Linked DNA regions of Homo sapiens. The gene in region 2 interacts genetically with the main gene of each other region. Each region holds a gene or a part of one and is shown on either strand. Other genes may lie near its edges.

What was found. Genes that interact genetically often act in the same process or in processes that back each other up.
Region 1: changes in CT47A6 (region 2) and FLT3 together harm fitness less than expected from each alone (positive genetic interaction), as found in Homo sapiens cells (one study listed by BioGRID).

The regions. Positions count from the first base shown.
Region 1 is NC_000013.11:28,052,077-28,055,576, forward strand, and holds part of FLT3 (receptor-type tyrosine-protein kinase FLT3 precursor), read right to left. Parts: intron 848-3,500; exon of another isoform or gene 756-847; intron 599-755; coding exon 469-598; intron 1-468. UniProt on the Homo sapiens protein: Tyrosine-protein kinase that acts as a cell-surface receptor for the cytokine FLT3LG and regulates differentiation, proliferation and survival of hematopoietic progenitor cells and of dendritic cells.
Region 2 is NC_000023.11:120,957,701-120,963,653, reverse strand, and holds CT47A6 (cancer/testis antigen 47A), read left to right. Parts: upstream 1-2,166; 5' UTR 2,167-2,425; coding exon 2,426-3,167; intron 3,168-4,054; coding exon 4,055-4,179; 3' UTR 4,180-4,210; intron 4,211-5,348; 3' UTR 5,349-5,489; downstream 5,490-5,953.

The DNA.
Region 1 (3,500 bases), on a different chromosome or scaffold from region 2:
TATTTTATTTTTTTAATTTTATTTATTTATTTTTTGAGACGGAGTTTCGCTCTTGTTGCCCAGGCTGGAGTGCAATGGCGTGATCTTGGCTCACCACAACCTTTGCCTCCCAGGTTCAAGAGATTCTCCTGCCTCAGCCTCCAGAGTAGCTGGTATTTTAGGTGCCTGCCACCACACCCAGTTAATTTTTTGTATTTTTAGTAGAGATGGGGTTTCACCATGTTGGCCAGGCTGGTCTCAAACTCCTGACCTCAAGTGATCTGTCCACCTTGGCCTCCCGAAATGCTGGGATTACAGGCGTGAGCCACTTCACCCGGCCCTATACTGGCCATTTTTTAACTTTAAGAAGCCAAAGTTTCCTGTTTAAATGAGCATAAATTAAATTTTACATACAGCTTGATGTCAACTACATTAGAAAAAGGCCAAAAGGAAATTATGAGAATAGCAGCTACCATGGATGTGTCATACCTTTCCCCCTGTGAATCGCAAAGCACCCATTCCACGATCGGCTCTGGAACGCTCTCAGATATGCAGACCAGGGCGTCCTGGTTTTCCATTTTTCTAAAGTAAGGTCTTCTTAATGTGTAAAGCAGGGTATCTAAAGCATCATAAGTTATTAACATTTTACTATTTTAAAAATAATTCTCTTAGCAGCCCCTCAGAAAAGGATTCTATGTCATTATGAAAAGTTCTCAACCATTACGTATACATATTTTTTTCTTTTTTCATAATAAAGGCATCAAAAGCAAACCAACCATTATATTAAATTTAGCTGTGGCTGCAGTGTCAACTTGAACATTTCTCCTCTTGGCCAATTTCTTTGGGTATTTCACAAATCCACAGCTAACTAAAGTAGTCGAGTGAAGCCATGTGAAAATACAAATATTGATAGGCACAGGAAAAAGGAAATTAGCAATAACATATGGCTTAAACCCTTGTTTAACACATAGTTTAGACCTCAACTTTCTTCCTATAATTTGATCTGCAACTAGGCAGAAATATACTAAGATTTAGAAAGACAGAAGAAACATGGTAGGGTGGAGTTGGAATTGCAACAGAACTTAAGAGGTTTAGTTGAGCCTCCCACTCACCCTGGATCACACACACACACACACACACACCATCCTTCACTCCCAGCTATTTCTAACATAAACTTTCTACTTCTACTTTGACTCTTCTAGAGACTGGAGTTCATGACCTCCCAGGGCAGGTCATTCTAATTTCTGACAAACTTTTTTTTTTTTAAAGAAAGTTTCCCTATACTGAATTCCAGCCTCTCTCCTTACAATAAATTTTGTTTGAAAATACTATGTACTGTTTGATATATATATATATATATGAAAGAATATATGGAGTGTAAATTTCAAAGCATAACAACAACAAATACCCACGGAGCCACTATCCACCTAATAACTAGAATATTAATAAATACCTTTTGATCTACTTTTATGCTTCTCCCCACCTCTCAACTGCACGTATCCTTTATCCTGAATTTTGTTGATTATTCGAGGACTCTTCAAAGTAGTTATACCAAATAAATATGTGGCACTAAACAATATATTGATTTTTTCATTCTTGAGCTTCAAAATAGTGTTATCAATCAATATGTAACTTCTACAACTTCATTTTTTCATCCAACCTTATGTTTTTAAAATTCATCCATGGTTTTACATGTAGCTATACTTTATTCATTTTTTTTTTTACTGCTACATAATATTCTATTGGTAAATATATCATTATTTTTTCATTTTCTTGCAGTAGACATTTGGGTTGTTTCCTTCCGTGTGTGTGTGTGAGACAGGGTCTCTGTCACCCAGGCTGGAGTGCAGTGGTGCAATCTCAGCTCACTACAGCCTCAACCTCCCAGGCTCAAGTGATCTTCCTGCCTTGGCCTCCCAAAGTGCTTGGATTACAGGTATGAGCCACCACACCCGGCCACAGTTTTTTGTATGATCAACCATGTGCTCTGAACATTCTACACATTTGTACTGAGGCATGTGTATAACAGTTTCCTTAATAACATTCTTAAGAGTGGAACTGCTGGTCTACATGGTATGAGCACATTCAGCCTTACACATAATGATCATTTGTTTTCCAAAGTGGTTATACTAATTTATGTTACACAGCAGGATATGAGAGCACCTATTGCTTTATAGACTTACCAAGACTTCTTAATTTTCAGCAATCCAGCAAGTATAAAATGGTATTTCATTGTGGTCTTAATTTAATTTCTCCATTATTAATTTAACATGTGTTAAAATAATTAATTGGGAGTCCATTAGGCTGAGACAACTCTAACAGCTTGAGTTCCTAGGTAAACAAATCACAACACAACTCAAAAAAAAAAAAAGGAAAAGAATAAAGGCCGGGCAAGGTGGCTCACGCCTGTAATCCCAGCACTTAGGGAGGGTGAGGCGGGAGGATCGCTTGAGCCCAGGAGTTCGAGACCAGCCTAGGTAACATGCCAAAACCCCGTCTCTACAAAAACAACAACAACAAAAAGCAAAAAACAAACCCAATTCAATATGAGCAGCAAAATGCAACTTAGCTTAATCAATGAGGAACTGCAAACTGACCAATCCAGGGACTGTCCTTCTTTAAACAATCAAATTTTTTCTTTGTCTTGCTTCCGGGAACACATTATAGAAAGAAGTCTTACCCTTGAATCTCCTCACTGGAGCCCACCTGCTTGCCATCTGGTACTGCCTGATTCATGAATTGCTTTCTGCTCAAATATACTCTTTACAACTTTAAAGTGCCTAAGTTTATCTTTTAACATGTTTCTTGACCATTTAGGTTTCATGTTCCAAAAATGAAATGCCTACTCATGTCCTTTGTTCATTGCTCTACTAGGTTTTCATTTTGTTCGTTTTTCTTATTGACTTATTGACTTATATAGATTGTTTATCTTATTGACTTTACATATTATGACTATTAATCCTTTGTTGATTGTGAACTGCAAGTATTTTTTCCCATCTTGAGGTGATTTTTACTTTTTCTCCCTGTAATTTCTAACAATTGGTTCTTATCATATCCTCTAGAGCAACTTTTTTAAAGTCTAGCTTTGATTCCATATGAAAATCTTTCAAATATTTAAAATCAGAAACCGAGATCAAGGGAGATAATTACCATACAAGGTACTTTAACTAGTTAGCTCAGGTTTCCTGACTCAAATCCCAAAAGAATTTCCTCTGCATTACACTGCAATCAATCTTATCGTCTCCTCAAAACATTTCCTTCTATATACTACACATTCCCAATTCCTTCAACTGCTCCTAATTTAAAGAATTCCAAGTTTTCCACTATCCTGGTTGCTCATTTTGTCAGTATTCATCTTTAAAAAAGTAGAACTGAAATGAATAAGCTTCTATTAATTTCCTTAATTTAGACGTTATATTTTCATGAACACTGCCAAGGTTCAAATTTACTTTTTTGGCAACCATGCCACGCTGGTGGTTAATACTGAGCTTGTGGTTGACTAAACCCTTTCCTCTTTTTCA
Region 2 (5,953 bases):
TTATTTATTTATTTTGCATTTTCACAGCCGTATATTTCGTAACGGCTTCTTTCCCACATGGTAGATACGGAAACCAAGGGTCTGGGAGGGTAAGGGAGTATTATTTGTGGAACCAGCACAGGCTGTTGAAGCTTGAGAGATTTATTTAAATCCCAGAATGGCCCCTCATGTAAAAACAAAAGCAACAAGCTTTTCTAGTGCTAGGCAGACAAGGTTGGTGTGATCATTTGACTGAAACCTTCAGTTCCACAAGCACCCTGATATCCAAGCTCGTGAGTTACAAAAGGAAAAGATGGGCTTCTCTACTTGTTTAAGATATAGCACACAAATGTTGCAGATATACACAGAGCTGGCCATTTTCTTCTATTTAGAAAGTCACTGGTGCTGGTTAATGTTGTACTATTGTTTATCATCTCTCATTTCATCCCACAGTCGGGAGGAAAAGAAAGAAGACTCTGTTGTTCATTGTTTTTATCTTTTTCTCCAGATGCCTGTGGGAATTGTAACACATATCATTCCAAAGTTCGTTACATCAAAAGTGATATCCAGTGACATCTAACTTTCATGGATGTATGTGACAGTGTTCAAGTTAAAAAATAAAAGTTTGTTTTAAATGAATAAACTGAAACGTGGGAAGATTTTTCAATAAGTAATCTTAACTCAAATCTCTCCTTTACGTCTTTGTTTTGGCCCACCATACCTTCATTGAAAGATATTACTTTCCGCCATTTGGTAAGACTCTTTGAAATTCTTTCACTGCAGCCAAAAATCAAGTAAAATGACAAGTTTAAAACAATTTTTGAAAAGAGAGAGATGGGGCTCATCTTTAGAGCTGTGTGTTGTGACTACTGAGCACTTGTAATACGGCTAGTCTGATTTAATATGTGATGCAAGTGTGAAAATAATATTGCATATATTACTAATTTTTTTTTTTTTTTTTTGAAACTGAGTCTCGCTCTGTCACCCAGGCTGGAGTGCAGTGGGGCCATCTTGGCTCACTGCAACCTCCACCTCCCAGGCTCCAGCAAATTTCCTGCCTCACCCTTCCGAGTAGCTGGGACTACAGGCGCGCACCACCATGTCCAGCTAATTTTTTGTATTTTTAGTACAGACAGGGTTTTACCATATTGGTCATGCTGGTCTCGAACTACTGACCTCAGGTGATCTGCCTGCCTCGGCCTCCCAAAGTGCGGCCTCCCAAAGTGCTGGATTACAGGCGTGAGCCACCACCCCCAGGCACTTTTGGTGTTTTTGATGCTTAGCTCTTATGAGATGACCTGGTCCTTTTAAAAAAAGTATCTCTTTTTTTCCCCATTATTTGGAGGTTTGAAGTGAATTTGGCAGGATTCATTAAACACCTTCCAGTGTCTGTCATTTACCACCTCAACACTCAGTGATGACTGCATCCATTTCAACTCTGCACATTCTTTTCTAAGTAGCTTTAACTACGTTAACTCAGTGAAATTCTTATGTCTCTTGGGAGGTTTTCACTACTGCTTAGCTATGAACTATATAACATTTTTATGACACTATCTCTACTGGCATGAGCCATTACTAGGTGGAAATAAGTGAACTCTGTGACCGCCTTGCAGTTCCCATGCTCCAGGGTGCCTCCACATGGGACTACTATAGTGTTGCTAATAATCATAAAATTAAAAGGGCAGGACTTGTGTGGACCTAAAGGGGTAGCCTTGGACACTAAGGCCTCATAGAAAAGGTAGAGCTCGGCCTGGCACGGTGGCTCATGCCTGTAATCCAAGCACTTTGGGAGGCTGAGGCAGGTGGATCACAAGGTCAGGAGATCGAGACCATCCTGGCCAACATGGTGAAACCCTGTCTCTACTAAAAATACAAAACCTAGCCAGGCGTGGTGGCATGTACCTGTAGTCCCAGCTACTCAGGAGGCTGAGGCAGGAGAATCACTGGAACCCAGGAGGCGGGGATTGCAGTGAGCCGAGATCTTGCCACTGCACTCCAGCCTGGGCAACAGAGCAACACTATGAAAAGAAAAGAAAAAGCTCTGGATTCTGGATTCTCAGTTCTAGAGCTTAAGGGCCTTGATCATTCATTGGACATAGAACATGTCAATCTGAAGTTTTCAGCAAATGAGCTTAGGGCTCACTGAGAGCCCCTCGTTGACCCTTCCGGTCCCGCCCCCTTTCGCCTGCCAACCAGAATCTTTCCCAACTTGTCTAAGTCCTCTCAGGCCAGCCTTGGTGGGAGGTTTCTAGGATTCGCTCCCTGCCCTTCCCATCTTAGGGTGTCGTCTGAGACAGACTCTTATTCCCTCAATAAAGAGAGAGACTCTTATTCCCTCAGCGGCCAGCTCCTCGCCTCCCCTCGGCCGTAGCCACCTCAGTGGTCACCGTCTTCACCGTGGTCGCCTCAGCCCGCTCGCCACCCCAGTTGAGGCGCTGCTGGTGTCATGTCTGCCACAGGGGACCGACACCCGACCCAAGGGGACCAGGAGGCCCCGGTAAGCCAGGAGGGAGCACAGGCCGAGGCGGCCGGAGCTGGTAACCAGGAGGGCGGCGACTCCGGCCCCGACAGCAGCGACGTGGTGCCTGCGGCCGAGGTGGTCGGAGTCGCAGGGCCCGTGGAAGGCCTCGGGGAGGAGGAGGGTGAGCAGGCGGCAGGCCTGGCCGCAGTCCCCCGGGGCGGGAGCGCCGAGGAGGACTCAGATATCGGGCCCGCGACGGAGGAAGAGGAGGAGGAAGAGGGGAACGAGGCGGCCAACTTCGACTTGGCGGTGGTCGCCCGTCGCTACCCGGCGTCGGGCATTCACTTCGTGCTCCTGGACATGGTCCACTCCCTTCTCCACCGCCTCTCTCACAACGACCACATCCTCATAGAGAACCGTCAACTCAGCCGCCTGATGGTGGGGCCACACGCTGCTGCGCGCAACCTCTGGGGCAACCTCCCCCCGCTGCTGCTGCCCCAGAGGCTGGGTGCAGGGGCCGCAGCCCGGGCGGGCGAGGGCCTGGGCCTGATCCAGGAGGCCGCATCGGTCCCAGAGCCTGCAGTGCCAGCTGACCTGGCCGAGATGGCCAGGGAGCCCGCGGAGGAGGCCGCAGAGGAGAAGCTCTCAGAGGAGGCCACAGAGGAACCAGACGCAGAGGAACCAGCCACAGAAGAACCGACCGCACAGGAGGCCACGGCCCCAGAGGGTAAGGAACGGGCTAGCGGCAGCAGCGGGGAGGCGGGGACCCGTGTGTCCCAGGGTTCTAGGCAGGGCCGCGGTGCGGGCATAGCTGGTGAAGCGGGTGGTGAAGGGGGGTCGGGGCCTCGGGTGGTGAAGCAGGAGTCGGGGCCCTCCTGAAACTTAAGGCAGAATGTGTCCCAATGAGTCGAAGCCCAATTCTCTAACGACATCTGTGGTTTTGAGAAAACTTGTCGCCCTCTACCAACCTATATTTGATAGGAGATCTGAGATCATCGGTGCCATTTGTGAGCCCGCAGATGAATGGCCGGGTAGATAGGGGTTCAGGAGGGAGCTCCGCAGGAAACAGAAGGGATGCGCCAAGGAAAAGAACAGGCAAATGGCAGGCATCCCTTTTAGTTCATGGCTTTTCAAAGTGTAAAGATTCGTAGAAAGTTGATCCCCCAAATGATGAAGTGATGCAGGAGCACTTGGTAAAAATGAAGCATTCAGGGGGGTGAGGAACCAATGAGCTTCACCATAGAATTTGTCTTTTGAGGTAAACAAATATTTTCCCAACAAAGTTCTGACCAAAACACCGTAGAATGAGATCGGACCCGATGATTCAGATCTCTTCTTCTCCAAAGAACTAGAAATAATCAGCCGCTTTGGGTGGGAGATTTACTGGAAAAAAGGGAAATACAGTGTCCCTGTGGAAATGATCAAGCAGCAGCAACGTGAGGGCCATGGAACTGTTGTGAAAACCAGTAGGAAGGTGCCCAGCTATTCCTTTCTTACTTAACTCTATCCTGCTTCTCCTGAGGGTGGAGTAGCTGAATGCCGCTGCTAGTTATAAATTGGGCTATATTTTCTGTGAATGTCTGGTCCCCATGTGTGTATTATTCTTCCCTAAAGAAGTCACTAAATCTCAGCCCGAAAAGTGGGATGAAGAGGCCCAAGATGCTGCAGGCGAGGAAGAGAAAGAACAAGAAAAAGAGAAGGATGCAGAAAACAAGGTGAAGAACTCCAAAGGGACCTAGACGCAGCAGAGGTGAAGCCAAGAAAATCCAGGTATCTGTGTATAGCTTTGAGAATCACTCAACTATTCCTGGCATTTACCTGTTGCAGACAGTTTTATTGAACAACAACAAAAATTCTCAGTAAGTTAAGTAAGAAAAAGTTTAAAATTAGTTTAAAAATTCAATTTAACTTACTTAAAATGTTACGAGAATATTCATGTACCTAGTAATATGAACTGCAGTGTGTTCTGAAATATACTTCTTGGCTACTCATTTGTTCATGTTGAGGTCTTTTGTCCTCTAGCTGCAAGACTACTAACAAGTGGCAGATGTATCAGACCTACTACCAGGACCAATATTTGTGTAGAAAACAGTTGCCAGACACAGCCGCTAACTTGGCTGGGCCACGCATTAGTTGGGCCTTCGTTACTTGACCACAGAAATGCAGGCTCCCGTAGTAACTAGGAGACAACTCAATGCCTTTTACAAAGTGACTACTTAAAAATAGCAAAAAGCTAAGAATTTCAAGTAGGACCACAATGAATGATTAATACCTAGATATTTATTTGGCTATATATTTTGGTATTTTATGTCACAGTCAGATGAAAAGAATGTGTGTTTATCACTGAATTGGTAATGAAGTCTTAAGGTATATCCATCTTTGAGTGTATTTAAATGGTTAACATTTTTCTTTCTTTCTTATTTATTTATTTATTTTGCATTTTCACAGCCGTATATTTCGTAACGGCTTCTTTCCCACATGGTAGATACGGAAACCAAGGGTCTGGGAGGGTAAGGGAGTATTATTTGTGGAACCAGCACAGGCTGTTGAAGCTTGAGAGATTTATTTAAATCCCAGAATGGCCCCTCATGTAAAAACAAAAGCAACAAGCTTTTCTAGTGCTAGGCAGACAAGGTTGGTGTGATCATTTGACTGAAACCTTCAGTTCCACAAGCACCCTGATATCCAAGCTCGTGAGTTACAAAAGGAAAAGATGGGCTTCTCTACTTGTTTAAGATATAGCACACAAATGTTGCAGATATACACAGAGCTGGCCATTTTCTTCTATTTAGAAAGTCACTGGTGCTGGTTAATGTTGTACTATTGTTTATCATCTCTCATTTCATCCCACAGTCGGGAGGAAAAGAAAGAAGACTCTGTTGTTCATTGTTTTTATCTTTTTCTCCAGATGCCTGTGGGAATTGTAACACATATCATTCCAAAGTTCGTTACATCAAAAGTGATATCCAGTGACATCTAACTTTCATGGATGTATGTGACAGTGTTCAAGTTAAAAAATAAAAGTTTGTTTTAAATGAATAAACTGAAACGTGGGAAGATTTTTCAATAAGTAATCTTAACTCAAATCTCTCCTTTACGTCTTTGTTTTGGCCCACCATACCTTCATTGAAAGATATTACTTTCCGCCATTTGGTAAGACTCTTTGAAATTCTTTCACTGCAGCCAAAAATCAAGTAAAATGACAAGTTTAAAACAATTTTTGAAAAGAGAGAGATGGGGCTCATCTTTAGAGCTGTGTGTTGTGACTACTGAGCACTTGTAATACGGCTAGTCTGATTTAATATGTGATGCAAGTGTGAAAATAATATTGCATATATTACTAATTTTTTTTTTTTTTTTTGAAACTGAGTCTCGCTCTGTCACCCAGGCTGGAGTGCAGTGGGGCCATCTTGGCTCACTGCAACCTCCACCTCCCAGGCTCCAGCAAATTTCCTGCCTCACCCTTCCGAGTAGCTGGGACTACAGGCGCGCACCACCATGTCCAGCTAATTT